Linked DNA regions of Homo sapiens: region 2 is linked to region 1. Evidence: fine-mapped expression QTL. Tissue or cell type: fetal neocortex. Region 1 holds a variant in brackets; the other region holds the start of a gene. All regions are shown on one strand. Distances are between the middles of the regions.

Region 1 (8,104 bases):
AATCAGATTGTATTTTGTTTTGTTTTGTTTTTGCTGTTGTTTGAGCTTCTTATATATTCTGATTATGAATCCCTTGTCAAATGGGTAGTTTGCAAATATTTCCTGCCATTCTGTGAGTTGTCTCTTCATTTTGTTGATTGTTTCCTTTGCTGTTTAGCTTGATGTAATCCCATCTGTCTATTTTCACTTGCTTTTGTTGTTTGTACTTGTGAGGTCTTACACAAAAAAATCTTTGCTTGCCCGAGACCAATGTCTTGGAGCATTTTCCAAATGTTCTCTTTTAGTAGTTTCATAATTTCAGGTGTTACATTCAAATCTTAATCCATTTTGATTTGATTTTTGTGTATGCTGAGTGATAGGGGTTTAGTTTCATTCTTCTGCATATAGTTTATCCAGTTTTTCCAGCAGCATTTGTTGAAAAGACTATCCTTTTTCCATTGTACGTTCTTTGTACCTTTGTCAAAGATGAATTGGATATGAATGTGTGGATTTATATCTGGGTCCTCTATTCTGTTCTATTGGTATATTTGTCTGTTTTTATGCCAGTGCCATGCTGTTTGGGTTACTATAGCTTTGTAATATATTTTGAAGTTTGTAGTGTGATGCCTCCAACTTTGTTCTTTTTGCTTAGGATTGCTTTGGCAATACAGAGTCTTTTGTGGTTCTATATAAATTTTAGGATTTTTTTTTCTATTTCTGTGAATGTCATTGGTATTTCTGATAGCGATTGCATTGAATCTGTAAATTGCTTTGGATAGTATTGTCATTTCAATACTATTAATTCTTTCAATCCATGAGGATGGAATATCTTTTCACTTTTTTGTATGTCCTTTTCTATTTTTTTCATTGGAGTTTTATAGTTTTCCTTGTATAGACCTTTCACTTCTTTGGTTAGATTGATTCCTAGGTATTTAATATTCTTTGTAGCTATTATAAATGCGATTGCTTTCTTGATTTTTTTTAACAGATTGTTCGCTATTGACATATATAAGTGCTACTGACTTTTGGATGTTGATTTTGTATCCTGCAAATTTACCAAATTTGTTTATCAGTTCTAATGGTTTTTTGGTGAAATCTTTGGGTTATTTTAGGTATAAGATCATGTTGTTTGTGAACAAGGCTAACTTGACTTCTTCCCTTCCAATTTGGATCCCCTTTACTTCTTTCTCTTGCCCAATTGCTCTGGTCCAGTTTTTCAATTTTTAAGACAGCTAGAGAAATGTGAACACTGGTTGACTATGCTGATGGTATTAAGGCATTTTTGCTAATTTTTTAGCATGATATTGGCATTATGATTAAGTTTTTAAAACTCCTTACGATACGTCAGAAGTATTTCAGAGGAAGTGACAGAATATTTGGGATTTGCTTTAAAATAATCCAGTGGAGGGTGGATGTACAGATGAAACATGATTGCCCGTTTGTTGATAATTGTTGAAATCCAGTGATGAGTACATAACATTTTTTAAAAGTACAATTTTTCCACTTTTGTTTGTTTTAATTTTTTGTCACATATGTGTATATATATATATGTATATTTTCCTAACGAGTCCTCATGGAGGATTTTTCAAGCTCAAATTGGAGAAAGGCTGCTTTTGCCTTCATTGTAGGGATGGTCAAACATCAATCTGAAGGGCCTCCTGCCGTGCTTCCTGGCATGATGCATATGAGGTCCCAGGCGGAGAGGATGAGGGCATTCCATAGGGAGAAGCAAAAACGAGCGGAGAAGACAGAGGGTCAGACAGTGTCCTGAGTCCCTGGGTCCTGGGTCCAGTCCTTCCAGAAGCCACCATGACTCTGTCCTTCCTGCTGAGGTGTGCTGGTTCATTGCCTCCCACTTGCCCTTTTTTCTCTTTCACTTCAGGTCATTTGAATTTCAAGACTCACCATTGAAAAAGGTCCTGACCATTACAGGGACCCTCCTTTGCTCCAGTCAGGAGTGGCCTGGGAGTCAGGATCACCTGGCAGAAAGTAAGGCAGAAAGTAAGGCAGTGTCTCTGGACGGGTGCCCTGAAGGGAGGTTTGAGCAAGGCGGCCCCTTACGGTTTCTGCACCTGGGTGCGGAGTACAGAGGCACTTCAGGGAGGACTACCCAGCTCCTGCCTTCCCTGAGAACGGCCTGTCCCCCAACGCTTTCTAAAGGGACAGTGCCAGCTTCTGTGTCAGCGTTCCATGCCCTGATCTCACCTGGCCATGGCAGATTGGACTGGGGTGGACCCTTGCCCCAAGGCTGGGCAATTAAGTTCTCTTTCCTAGGTATTGAAACTGGGACCAAAGACTGCAGTTCAGAGACGTTGGTGGCTGCAGCAGAGAGGTGGTGCAGGGCTGGAGCTGGGGAGTCAGACACCGCTGAGCTGCAGGGCCGAGGGGTCATGTGGTTCCTGAGAGACACCACAGTACACTCTTCTGACTTACTAGGTACTGATTCTTCATGAGTAACTGCATTTTTGACCATTGTTGCCATGAGGTCCCATTCCTTTGTCCTTCCAATTAATTCCTTTTTTTGCTTGACCTAGCTTGAATGAGTGAGCAAATGTGTCCTAAGATTCTAAGAAACTTTTAGAACAATCTCACTTGTGTCATTTTCAGTTATTTCACTCTTCGTAATATAATTTCAATGTCTCTTACCTTTATATTCAGCTTTATTGGAGGAAATTAATTATTAATAATTCCATACTATGTTACATTTACCTAATCCTGTTGATAAATACTACTGAGTGGCTTGGGGACTCCTTTAAATGAAATTTTCAATTTATCGCTTCCTTGCTGGGTTGGTAAGGAAATTTGGATTCAAGAACTAGGCTGGGCGTGGTGGCTCACATCTGTAATCCCAGCATTTTGGGAGGCTGAGGCAGGTGGATTACCCAAGGTCAGGAGTTCAAGACCAGCTTGGCCAACATGCTGAAACCCAGTCTCTACTAAAAATACAAAAACTAGCCAGACATGGTGGCATGCATCAGTAATCCCAGCTACTTGGGAGGTTGAGGCAGGAGAACTGCTTGAACCTGGGAGGTAGAGGTTGCAGTGAGCCGAGATCGCACCACTGCACTCCAGCCTGGGCGACAGCAAAACTCTGTCTCAAAAAAAAAAAAAAAAAAAAAAAAAAAAAAGCCGGGTGCGGTGGCTCACACCTGTAATCCCAGCACTTTGGGAGGATGAAGCGGGCAGATCACTTGAGGTTGGGAGTTCAAAACCAGCATGGCCAACATGATGAAACCCTGTCTCTACTAAAAGTACAAAAAATTAGCTGGGTGTCGTGTCATGTGCATGTAATCCCAGCTACTTGGGAGGCTGAGGCAGGAAAATCGTTTGAACCTGGGAGGTAGAGGATGCAGTGAGCTGAGATCACGCCATTGCACTCCAGCTTGGGTGACAGAGCAAGATTCTGTTTTTTTTAAAAAAAAAACAAACTAGATAGTAACCTAAGTAAATAGACAATTTTGGCTCACGCCTGTAATCCCAGCACTTTGGGAGGCCAAGGCAGGCAAATCACGAGGTCAAGAGATTGAGACCATCCTGGCTAACATGGTGAAACCCCATCTCTACTAAAAAAATACAAAAAAATTAGCCAGGCATGGTGGC[G/T]GGCGCCCGTAGTCCCAGCTACTTGGGAGGCTGAGGCAGGAGAATGGCATGAACCCGGGAGGTGGAGCTTGCAGTGAGCCGAGATTGCACCACTGCACTCCAGCCAGGGTGCGAGTGAGACTCCATCAAAAAAAAAAAAGAAAGAAAATAGAGGATTTATCATAAATTCCCTTTATGTGGAAACAAAGACAGGTGGGCAGGGAAAACAGCCACAGGCTGTGGAATGCTGTCAGGACTCTCCTCATTCTGCATCTGCTGCCGTCTCCCTCTCTCAACAGAATGTCCCATGCATTTCAGTTTACATAGCAGAAAGTATCAACAGTGCCTATATCCAAGCCCCACCATTTAATAAGTTATTCAGGTGAAGACTGAAAGCCAGTAGCACAGTGGCTCGCACCTATCGTCTTAGGTACTTGAGAGGCGGAGGCAGAGGTGGGAGGATCGCTTGATCCCAGGAGCTGGAGGCTGCAGGGAGCTATGATTGGGCCACTGCACTCCAGCCTGGGTGATGGAGCAAGACCCTGTCTCTAAAAACAAACGAACAAAAACCCATGCAATATTCTAGCCTCGAGTCCAGTATCATGCGTTAGAGACTCTGATAACCTAACCTAGATGATGGGTCTATTCCTGGATCAAGAAAATGTGGCCTTGGGGCAAGAGAGGGCTACCAAAGACACGAAATGGCTACCAGGAACTCACCATTGTTACAGCGCTCTGATTGACGAGCTTGAGTACTGTGTATTGTGTCTCTCAGCAAGCACATTGTAGCCACAGCCCTGCAGCTAAGCGGTGTCAGACTCCCCAGCTGCATCCCTGCACCACCTCTCTGCTGCAGCCACCAGCATCTCTGAACTACAGTCTCTGGTCCCAGTTTCAATACCTGCGAAAGAGAACGTAATTGCCCAGGCTTGGGGCAGGTATCCACCCCAGTCCAATCTGCCATGGCCAGGTGAGACTGAGGCATGGAACGCTGACACCATTCCTTCAACTGGGGGAACAGGCAGTTCTCAGGGAAGGCAGGAGCTGGGTGGTCCCTCCCCAGGGGCCCCCTGTGCTCAGCGCCCAGGTGCAGAAACTGCCAGGGGCCGCCTTGCCCAAACCTCCCTTCAGGTCACAATATCTTGAAGAGACCTGTCCAGAGATGCTGCCTTGCTTTCTGTGACCCAGCTCCCAGGCCACACCTGATTGGAGCAAAGGAGGGTCCCCGTAATGGTCAGGACCTTATGACCTGGAGTGAAAAAGAACAAAAGGGCAGGTGGGAGGAAATGAACCAGTTCCCCTGAGCAGGACAGACAGAGTCACGGTGGCCTCTGGAAGGACTGCACCCAGGGACTCGGGACACTGTCTGTGCATACACACACACACATATATAAGCATATATACATTAGCATATATAGAAGCATACATATAACCAAGTAAGTTGTTGGTATTATTATTTTGAAGAAAGTGCTATCTTTTAAATCAACTAAGAATAAGAAAAATAGAAATTGTTACTTTACATTGACTAATTTCTTCTCTGATGCTCTTCTTTTCCCTATGCAGATCCAAGAGTCTGACCTATACCAATTTCTTTTTCTCTAAAGAACTTCTTTTAACATTTTCTGCATGACAGATCTACTGGCAACAAATTTCCTCAATTTATGTTTGTCTGAGAAACTCTTCATTTCTCCTTGACTTTTGAAGGACAATTTCACAGGGTACAGAATTCTAGGTTGGAGAGTTTTTTTCTCTCAACATTTTACATATTTCACTCCACTCTCTTTTTGCTTGCATGGTTTCTGAGAAGCTGGACGTAATTCTTTGTAAGAATTATGAGGCAGGATTTTTTTTCCTTAGACTTCTTTCTGATTTTTTCTTTATCTTTGATTTTCTGTAGTTTGAAAATGGTATGTCTAGGTGTGGGTTTTTGTTGTTGTTGTTTTTGTTGTTTTTGCATTTATCCTGTTTGGTGTTCTCTGAGTTTCTTGGCTCTGTGGTTTGGATCATGAATTTGTAGAAACTCTCAGTCATTATTATTCCAATATTTCTTCTGTTCCTTTCTTTCCTTCTTCTTCTGGTATTACACTATGCATCTGTTACCCCTTTGTAGTTGCCTCATTGTTCTTGGATATTTTGCTCTATTTTTTTTAAGTCTTTTTTCCTATTTGCTTTTCATTTTTGGAGGTTTGTTTGTTTGTTTGTTTTTGAGATGGAGTTTCGCTCTTGTTGCCCAGACTGGAGTGCAGTGGCACAATCTCGGCTCACTGCAACCTCCACTTCCCAGGTTCAAGAGATTCTTCTGCCTCAGCCTCTTGAGTGGCTGGTATTACAGACGCCCGCCACCACACCCAGCTGATTTTGTATTTTTAGTAGAGATAGGGTTTCATCATGTTGGTCAGGCTGATCTTGAACTCCTGACCTCAAATGATCCACCCACCTCGGCCTCCTAAAATGCTGGGATTACAGGCGTGAGCCACTGCGCCTGGCCTCATTTTTGGAGGCTTTTACTGAGATATCCTCAGGCTCAAAGATTCTTTCCTCAGTTGTGTCCAGTCTACTAATAAGACCATCAAAGGGATTCCTTTTTTCTGTTACAGTGTTTTTGATCTCTAGCATTTCTTTTTGATTCTTTCATAGAATTTCTAACTCTCTGCTTACATTGCCCATCTGTTCTTGCATGATGTATACTGTGTCCATTGGTGCCTTAGCACACTAATCATGGTTCTTTTAGATTTCTGTTCTGATCATCCGACATCCTTACCACATATGAGTCTGGTTTCGATGCTTGCTCTGTGTCTTCAAACCATGTGTTTTTTTTGTTTGTTTGTTTGTTTTTTTGCCTTTTAGTATATCTTGTAATTTTTTCTTGATTGCTGGACATGATGTACTAGATAAATGGAACTGTTGTAAATAGGCCTTTAGTAATGTGTTGGTAAGGTGTAGGGAGAGGAGAAGCATTCTGTAGTCCTATGACTAGGTCTCAGTCTCTCAATGAGCCTGTGTTCTCAGACTGTGAGTTTCACAAGTGCTTCTCAGTCCCCCTCTCGTCTTAGGGGGATAGAACAGCCAGAGTGGGCTGGAGTTGGTGATTTCCCTTCTCCCGTGTGGAAGGCTGGGGCCACCTAGGTTTTGAGTTTTTTTGCTTTGTTTTGTTTTGTTGTTTTGTTTTTGGCCTGGGTCAGTTAGGTTCTGATAAAAGCCCAGCTGGTTAGGCTCTGGTTAGTTTCTCCTGTTGACAGACCTTGTAAAAAAGAACAGAATGCCCTGGTATATTTCAAAATGATTCCTTTTCCCGTCCCTCTGCCAGGAGCCTGAGGGGATTTTTCTCTGACATTCACTGTGAGGACCCAGTAGCGCTCCTGGAGGTCAAACACAGAAGTGGCGGCGGGGGGTTGGGGGGGGGCACCCTGACGACTGGGTCCCCCTGGCATTTTTATCTCTTAGACTTGTTCGCATGGAGCCCCCAGCAATTCCTGACTCTCCGTTTGGCCTCTTTCCTTGCTTTTCTTTCTGTAGTGGACACTGTGGTGCTCCAGCCAGGTTCTCTGAGAACCCCTGACCAGCTTGGCACATGCATCTCCCAGCTTCTGAGGTCTGTGTTTCTAAGGGCTTGCACTTGCGACTATCTTCAGTCTATCTTGGGTTACTGATGCCACCTCCCAAGAACTCCCCAAGAGCAGAGATGCTGGAAAGTTTATATGTCCTTGGGGCAGAGTTCTTAGCCAATGACTGACACATGCAGGAGTATGAAAACCAACCTCAACGTAGGACCAACTCTGAAGTGTAATTTATGCTCTAGAGATACCTAGAGGATCATGATGAAGTGAGATTTTGCAAGATATGACACCTCACTTCACTAATCAACTTCTCCTGGGAGTAAATAATTATTTGCACGTGAATTGTCATCTCAGGGTCTGCTTTAGAGAGAACCTGACCTAAGACAGTCATGCTTGCACTGCACAGTGCATATGTATTCATTCAGGCTCTTTGAGCTATAAGAAGTAGAAAACGGGCTGGGAGCTGTGGCCCACGCCTGTAATCCCAGCACTTTGGGAGGCCGAGGCGGTTGAATCATGAGGTCAAGAGTTCGAGACCAGTCTGGCCAACATAGTGAAACCCCGTCTCTACTAAAAATACAAAAAATTAGCAGGGTGCGGTGGTGTGCACCTGTAATCCCAGCTACTGGGAAGGCTGAGGCAGGAGAATCGCATGAACCCGGGAGGGCAGAGGTGGCAGTGAGCCGAGATGGTGCCACTGCACTCCAGCCCAGGTGACAGAGTGAGACTCCGTCTCAAAAAGAAAAAAAAAAAAGTAGAAAACCAAATATTGGCTAATGTATCTGGGAAGTCTGTGGGCTGACCCAGCTTCATGCATGAATAGGTCCAGAAACTCAAACAAGAAATTAGGAACCTGCCTCGTCCTGTATTGCTTCAGTTTCTTGCTCTTAGTTGGCATCCTCTTCTCTAATGGCAGGCGGACTTTGTCTACACACCAGGGAAGATGGCTTCAGGCAGTCCACATACTCCCATGCCTATGACACAAAGGT
Region 2 (8,104 bases), 340 kb before region 1:
GACAGCCAAGGAAAGGCTAATGGAAATCATGCTATCCCATTGATGAACTGTGATCCCAGCAGCCTTGACAGGGTAAGTATAAATTTGGTTCCTCTTTGGGGCGATGGACTTTTGGGAAGATATCACAGAAGTTATGGGCAACATCCCCAAGAAAAACTCTCTTGCCCACCCCTGTCTACAGGGATGTGCAGGCCCCTGAAGAGCAGCCAGGCACCTGGAGAAAGAGGCCTCCTGTGTGGGAGAAGGCACTGGAGATTTAGGGGCTCAGCAACAGCAAAGATGAGCCAGAGTACCCAGGTGGCAGGACTTAGCCAAAAGTCAACCAGCATTTCCTGAGCATCCATGCCATGCTGGGTGCTAACAGAAAGGGCCGACCAAGCTCGGGTCTGGAAGGACTAAGGAGGGGAAAAAAGCAGGAGGGCTAAAGGGACAGCCGAGGAATCTCAGACCTTCTTTCCAAAAGAGACTTAAGAGACCAACTAGTCTCTTGAGCCTGAACTAGACAGTTAACTTCCCTTGAGGAGATGCAAAGCGGGTCTCGGTAGTAACTCCCAATATGACTCCTGCAGCATCTCAGATCCTCGAAGGGAGCAAAAATGACCGTACTCAGAGCAATTTCCATCAAAGATCAACTAGGAGTGTTGATTCTGTCTTCACGCAGCTGGATGCGCCATGGGAGGAAAGGCTCTGAAAGGTGAAAAGCACCCAAAGTTCAAGACCCCTGACTGAGGCACAAGAATCAAGGCTCCTTCTCGTGCCCAGAACAGCTGCCGCTGGGACAGGGAGAAATCACACCTGGTGGAGAAGTTTGGAGAGGGAGACCAGTCCATGAATGAAGAGGGCGTGACAGCAGGAGAGGGGAACATGTGACAGGTGGGGTTGTGATCTAATGGGGAGACAGAACCACTAGAAAAGACTGTGTCCCTCACTTCCAGTGCCTCTTTTGCTCAATTCAGTGATTTTTTAGATTCCTCCCCATCACTCCTGTTCCCTGTCACCACAGCCCATTTTCTCAAATTGCAGTCTTGCCTGAGATATTTTAAAGATGACAACAGACCTATCTACACATCTACAGAGTTTCAGGAAGGAAGGGAAGGAGGGAGGGAAAAGAAGGGAAAGGAAAGAGGGAAAGAAGGGAGGGGGAGAGGGAGGGAGGGCAGGAGGAAGTTTGGAGGGTAAGAAAGAAAGGAGGGAGGCAGGAAGGGAGGGAAGGAGGCCATTTGGGAAGTTCTGCCTCATAAAAATTATTTTACCTGTCTAATTTCAAAATGCTCAAGTCTGGCTATTGTCGTTTTTGTTTCCCAAGTAGCTCAGGGGATGCCCAAACACCAGATTTAATCCTTCTTTCATCATGTTTAAATTGAACCAGTGTCGGGAAGGAAGGGAAGAGGTAAATCACACTTCAGGGGGAAAGTTATCAAGTTGGCTGTCCTGGAAAAAGTCAGAGAGCCACAGCTTCATTTCAGGACAAACTCGAAATCATGAGACAGGACTTCAAACAGATCGCAGGATGCATGAGACAGAATTTTAAACAGATCACAGGGTGTTGGTTGAGACTCTCAGACATGTCTCAAGTCATCACTTCCTCCCCAGCCAGTGCTCCGGGGTTTGGTAAACAGGCAACGAATGAAAGAGATGGTTTCCAAATCCTCTCCCACCTGCCCACCACCCCAGGTTCCTGTCTGTAATTCCATTAGCTTTCTTCTTTCTCCTTCTAGATTCACAGCTGGGGATTCTGGCCAAGACAAGAACTCGGTTCCTGGTGACTGCCCAGTGCCCTCCATTCTATGAAGTGAATTTGATCAGAGCACAATGATGCAGGATAAGAATCAGAAAGGGCAGTGCCAAGGTGCAGGGGCTACAAGGAAAGGTGACTCCCCTCGCTATCTGAGGATAAGAGGCAATTGATGATGGCCCAACACTCACAGCTTCTATCTTCCCCACAAAGGGAAAGAAACAGGGAGGCACCTCCCATCCTCTAGGTGGACACAGCCCAGCCAGCAAATCAGGGTATCACGACCAGCTACAGAATTTATGGGACCCAGGAGAAAATGCAAATGTGCAGCTCTTTGTTCAGAAAGTATTAAGGATTTCAAGACAGTGACAGCAGGACTTTAAGCCGAGCCAGAGTCTTTCTGAGTGCAGGACTTTGTGCACGTGTCCTGCTGGCTCAATGTGAAGCCCCTGCCTGCCCTTCAAGCATGGTGGGGTGATGTTCCAGATCTATCATGGATGTGATTAGAGGTCTTGTCCCCTGGTCTGAAAGACATTCCACCCCTCAGGTTTACTACCCTCGTCTGCACTTCATTTTTGAGGTGCCGATGACACAAGGTAGGTAAGTGAGCCCCATGAAAGCTGCTACCAAGGGCTCAGAGGTTATGGGGCTTGGGGATAAAGGTGACCGTGAGGAACCTGAATCAAGACGGCTCCGGGACACGGTGGCAAAGGTGCCTTTCCAGGCTTCCAGGGGCTTGCATTCACAACCATCTCTGAGTTCTCAGCTAAGAATCCCTAATAGGGTACAAGCAAGAGTCCCAAGAGATCCCATGAACACCCAGGGAACAGAACTTAGAGGTGTCTGATCCAAGTCCCAGATCTTAGAGATGGGGAAGCCAATGCCAGAGAGTTGGTGACCCAGGCAAGGTCAAGCCCTCTGTATGGCCTGCAAGATGATGTGCCTGCAGGAGGGGTTCCCTGAACACTGGGAGTCATCAAAGCCTCCCCCTGTCAGAGCCACACTCTCTCCACATGGCCCCAGGAGAAGGCTGACTTCCCCACTGGACGAACCCCAAGACAAATTCAGGATGGTGCTGTCTAGGCCCTAGGGTAAGAGAGTTTCTAAGGACTGCAGGAGAGAAGGGAAGGCCCTCTGTGACCATGGCAGTGGGTGACTGGAGCCAGCCTGTGGAAGGCCCAAGGACGAGCTGATGTGAATTCACCCTGCCTTGGCATCCAGGGGGGCCCACAGGAAGGAAGGGAGCCCATCCCAGGGGAATTCTACCCCGAGTGGACTGTGCAGGTTCTGTCAGGCTCAGCTAAACCCACCCTTAGACTCCCTGGAGACCAGGATGCTTTCAAGGAATTTTAAACCCCTTGGATCCTGGTGGGGTCAACAGTGAGTATGAGCCCCCTTGGCCCCTGGGGAATGAGATAAACTTTCGGGGCTTTCTCTATCTCAGAAAAGAGGCTCAGAGAGACATCTCAGGTATCTAATCCCCCTGGTCAGTTCACTTCATTCAGAGGGAGGGCTCCTCCTTCCACAGGATCAAACTCAGGATTGAGTTTCTCTTGGGCCAGGCCCTCAGGGGGGATGTGGGTCACACCCCTGACCTGCAGAAGAGACCTGGGCTGGCAAGAGGCCCCAGCAAGAGCTAAAGGCTGTGCCAGGGCAGGCTCTGGGCTAACTGAGCGGGGCTGGGGTGGAGTGAGGTCCTCCTGGGAATGAGCAGATGTGGGCCTGGTCCGGGAGCCACGTTCCTCACCACAAAAGGCTGACTTACTCGGGAGTGTTGATCCAAATGATGTCCAGGTGGCAATAGTAGACACACTCCTTGTCCTTGTAGGTGAAGCACGTGCAGCGCCTGGATCGGTGGTGCTCAGGGGCCCCCTCGGCCGCCTGCTCCTGCCCAGGGCTTCCAGGGCTTGGACCCTGCAGTGCTGTCGGGGCCACAGTCCCCTCGCCAGGGCCAGCCACAGTCTCCTCGCCAGGGCCAGCCACAGTCTCTTCACAGTCCCCCTCAGATCTGGCTGCAGTGGGGGCCTGGGACACGCCGCGCCTGCCAGCATCCCCAGACTGGGAGCAAGGCACGAATCCTGCAGAAGGCAGATTGAGGGGCTCCTAAGCTGAGTGTGCAGACCCCTCAACACCCGCCACCCCCAAACACCTGAGGAGGGGGGTGGAGCAAGCAAAATGTCTGCAAAGTTTCCAAAGCTCTGCGCAGTTTCTGAAAAGTTTCCAAGCTATCTGCACACTCTGTGAAAAGCTTGCAAGCTATCTGCACCCGTTGAAAACTTGCATGCATTTTGCATACTTTCTGCAAACTTTGCCAGGGTTTGGCACAGCCTCTGAATAGTTCGCAAACTTTCTGAAAAGTCCCCAGTTTCATGAAAAATTGACCAAGTCGGCCCAGGCAGCAGGTCTCCAGCCAGTGCGCGGGCTGCAACTCCCGGAGCCCGTGCGGGTAGTCGTTGCGCGCCGCTTCTGCTCCCCAGCCCTCCCCCAGGCGTCTTCACGAGTGCAGAGCCCAGGCAAGAGTTTGCTCCCCGCGACGCACATCTTCTCCGCGCCTCGGGTCCCCCGCCCTGGGTCCTTTTGTGTGCGCTCGCGCCAGGAGAGGCGCGCCGCCCCGTGCGCTTACCTGCGGCGGAGGTCACTGTGAGCCCGAAAAGGAGCCACAGCCCCGGCTCCATGAACCTAGATCAGGCGCCGGAGCACCGGACCAGGAGGACGGCCGCTTGTGGCCGCGAAAGGGCACTGGGGCCGGGTACAGCTGGCCTCGCCCTCCAGCTGTGGGGGTTCGAGGCCGGCCGATCGCTCGCTGCGTCTCCAGCTCCGGCCAGGAGTTGGCTGCGGCGGTCATAAACTTTCAGAGCGCGCTGCCCATCCCTGCGCGGAGCTGGCCGGCTGTGGCTCGGGCTTTTCTGGCTTCTGCACCACCCCCGTCGCCTCCCCGCCCCCCAGAGGGGCTGGAACTGCCTCGCCGGGCCTTTGAACCCGGGCGCACTGGGGGTCGCCTCCCAGGCGCTGGGGGGAGCTGGCCAGGAGCGCAGCGGCCCGAGGCGCACCCAGGACAGCGAGGGGCGGGGGCGGCGTGGCGTGGCGCGGCTGGGTGGGGTGGGGTAGGGTGGGGTGGGGGCCGGGACAGCTGCCAGCTGCCGGAAGGCCACGAGAGCGCGCGCACACACGCACACGCGCGCTCACACTCACAGGCGCACCCCCGCCCGCCAGTTCGCCGCTCCGGAGTAGCAGCCCCCCATCCAAGAGCAAGAACAGATGAGAAAAGGCTGTGCTCAAGGGGTGTTATCTTTTCTATCAGGGGCTGAGGGAAAGACACATTTCTCATTGTTCCCCGAGTGACACCTTCCCCTTGAAGAGCCTGCTTGCCAAGGAACTCGGTGTACTTTACACTCTTGACTCACGCCTCGGGCTGGCTCCCTACCTCTCCCAGGAGTTCAGAGCCTGCGTGTGGGGCAGTGGCCTGGGAGCAAAGTCAACAAAGATCCTGGGTTAGCGGTCCTGTGGTGTCCAGGGCTTCCTCAGCCATCTGCACAGGTTGGGTGGCTTCAGGTGAGAGTCGGGCTCCTCTCCCTAAAGGCCAAGTTCATTCACACAACCGTCCCTACCAAGGGAAATGACCTCCCAAGAGAGCCCCCTACTTCCTTCATAGCCTTCCAAGTCCTGTGTGTGGGAGGCTGTCCCCATCTCCAGCTCAGATAAAAATGTCTGAGACTGGGAAGTCCTCCTGACTTCTCAGGGCACTTGTGGTCAAAGGACCCTCCTTTCATAACAGATGGGGTTGGGGGAGGGGCAGTGCTTCACATCTGTAATTCCAGCTCTTTGAGAGGCCAAGGTGGATGGATTGCTTGAGCCTGGGAGTTCAAGACCAGCCTGGGCAACATAGCGAGACCTCATCTCTAAAAAATGGGGTTGAATTGGGTCCTGCCCTCTACTAGCCTTAACGACCAGCTTCTGAAAACTAGAAAGCAGCTGAAGTGACCAGAGCAGTTTCTGAGGACAGTCCAAAAGAGTGCTACAACATCCCCCTGGCTTGATAGCTCAGGACACCTGTCCTCTGAACACAGCTGCTGTACCAGGAGGAAGCCCTAACAAGCCCACCTGGAGAGATCACCTGGAGAAACCTACGTGGAGAGAAACCGAGGCCTCCCAGCCGACCACCAGTGTCAGCCACTGACCTGAGTGAATGTGCCTTCCGATGATTTGAGCTCCCAGCCCTCAAGACTTCCAACTGAGGAATAGCTGTCCCGCTGTACCCTGTCCGAACTTCCCACCCACACAATCCATGAGCATAATAAATGGTTGTTTTACAGCACTAAACTCTGGGTAAATTGGTACAGAGCTGCAGTAACTAGAGTAGCACTCAAGCTTCCAGCACTGAAGCTGATGCTGAAGTTCTCCATCCCCCCACTCCCATCCCATCCTGCCTAGCCCTTGAATCCAAGTGTTTATTTGTTTGTTTTTGCACTTGATGCTTTGAAAATAAGAAAAACCCAAGACTCACAATATCTTCTGTTCCTGCTGGGCTAGAATTTGGATCATTTTAGTATTATCTTTGTTTGTTGGGGCTACTATAACAAAACGCCATAAGCTGGGTGGCTGATAAACCGCAGAGTTTTATTTTTCACATTTTTGGGGTCTGGAAAACCAAGATCAAGGTGCTGGTAGATTCGGTGTTTAATAAGGGCTCGATTTCTGATCATGGATGGTGACTTCTCACTGCATCCTCAGTTGTGGAAGGGTCAAGGCAGCTCTCTGGGGGTCTCTTTTCTAAGGACACCAACCCCATTCATGAGGGCTGCAACCCTCATGACTTAATCACCCCTCAAGGGCCCCACCTCCTGACATCATCACCTTCATGGATAGGATTTCAACAGATAAATCTGGAGAGGACAAATATTCAGACCATAATAATTACTATCTCTTTGGAATTAAAATTTCCATCTTCAACAAAATAAAAAGTTCTTGGATTGGGGGATGGCTGGAGGAATAGAAAATATACTAATCAGCTAAAAGGAGAAAAGGAGTAGGAGGAGGTTTCCGGGTACCATGTTCAGACACAGGAGGTATCATGGCTGCTTAGACCACTCTCTGGGTCTATGGCCTTCAGTAGCTTGAAGCCGACCACCACTTGTCTTCACTGGGACTAAAAATCAACAAACCCTGGATGAGCCTCTCAGGCACCAGGAGGTGCTAGCCAAATACCAGGATGGAGCTGGCCCTGCCCTCTGGGTCTTCTACTCTAGTTGAGGTAAGGAAGTTCAGAAATAGATCGCCAAGGATCCAGGATGCTGAGAACATAAAACGCCGCACAGAGCTAAGAGAAGAAGACAGTGTGTTCAGCTGGATGATCAGAGGAGGCAGCATTGTCCTTGGTCCCTAAAGCAAGCCGGGCGCCATGATTTGAGGCAGCAGCCTGCAGTGACACTCGCCAACACCAGCTCTCAAGCGAAAGAGCTCCCTTTCCTACTGTTCTTCTGGCTTCTGACGATGGCCAGGGCAATGACTCGATGTGTCTTTAACAGCTCTCGAACAGAGAGAGAGCTGTACAAAGGGATTTTTGAACAAAGGGATACAAAAGGAATGTAGCAGGCCATAGGCTTGTACAAAGGGATAGCAGGCCATAGGCTTGGAGCCTTTGTCAGGCTGTGGAATCGGGCTTACTGTGCATGGTAGTGATTGACATAAAATTCCTTTCTAAATTAATACACTTAAGTCAAGTAAAGGTAACCTCAATTACAATATGAAGTAATTCATTGTAAAGCCGGCTTGGAGACTTGGCAAGATCACAAAGCCTTCTGGGTTCCAGGCTAAGAAATGTGCAAAGGAAATATACAATTCATGTAACTCAATGGCAAGCTGGTGGTTTCCATCATTGTTTTGCCCTTGTGACAACTCAACAAAATTTATGCTAACATTATCCCCATCTCACAGATTAAAAAACTAAGGCTCGAAAAGGTCAAAGTAACCAGCCTACAACCATGCATCTATTAAGTGGCAGTCTATCAGGATTCAAATTTGACTCCACATGATTCCAGGGACAGAGTTCATAATGCTTAAGCAGCGCTGCCTCTGGAACTCATACCCAAGGTTTTAATGGTTCCCATTTTCTTCTGTGTATCATTGACAACTCACTGCCTCTCCATCTGTCTAGTTTCCATTCCATAATCTCTGATGGAAGGTCATGTAAAGGAATGATGACCTCTACAGAGGACACGAATGAATAGGCATTCTTCTCCGCAGACGTCTGCCAATATTCCTTGATCCTCCTTCACTGCCTCAGCATCCAATGTGCCCCTAGGAGAAGTCATGTATCAGGACACTGCTGGGGCTCGGCCAAGTGCACGGCTTGGTCATTGTGTTTATTTT

Alleles and levels. Positions count from the first base shown, and alleles are read on the strand shown. Sizes are in standard deviations (SD) of each study's normalised expression.
In carriers of allele G in region 1, the expression in fetal neocortex of the gene that starts at base 4,612 in region 2 tends to be higher than with T alone (large effect, 2.0 SD a copy in Walker 2019).

Evidence for each region. PIP is the estimated chance that this variant, and not a neighbour inherited with it, causes the effect.
Region 2: EDN3 starts here. The variant in region 1 is fine-mapped to the expression of EDN3 in fetal neocortex (Walker 2019, PIP 0.95).

What each region holds. Positions count from the first base shown.
Region 1 is chr20:58,962,086-58,970,189 of GRCh38, reverse strand. It overlaps LOC107985382 (a long non-coding RNA gene), which reads left to right and starts at 2,336. Exons shown (of 4, transcript XR_001754727.2): 1 at 2,336-2,415; 2 at 8,032-8,102. RefSeq lists an enhancer at 3,992-4,544. The variant G/T (reference allele first, on the strand shown) is at 3,580.
Region 2 is chr20:59,297,119-59,305,222 of GRCh38, reverse strand. EDN3 (endothelin 3) reads right to left here and starts at 4,612. Exons shown (of 5, transcript NM_207034.3): 1 at 4,359-4,612; 2 at 3,501-3,813. The coding sequence starts at 4,410.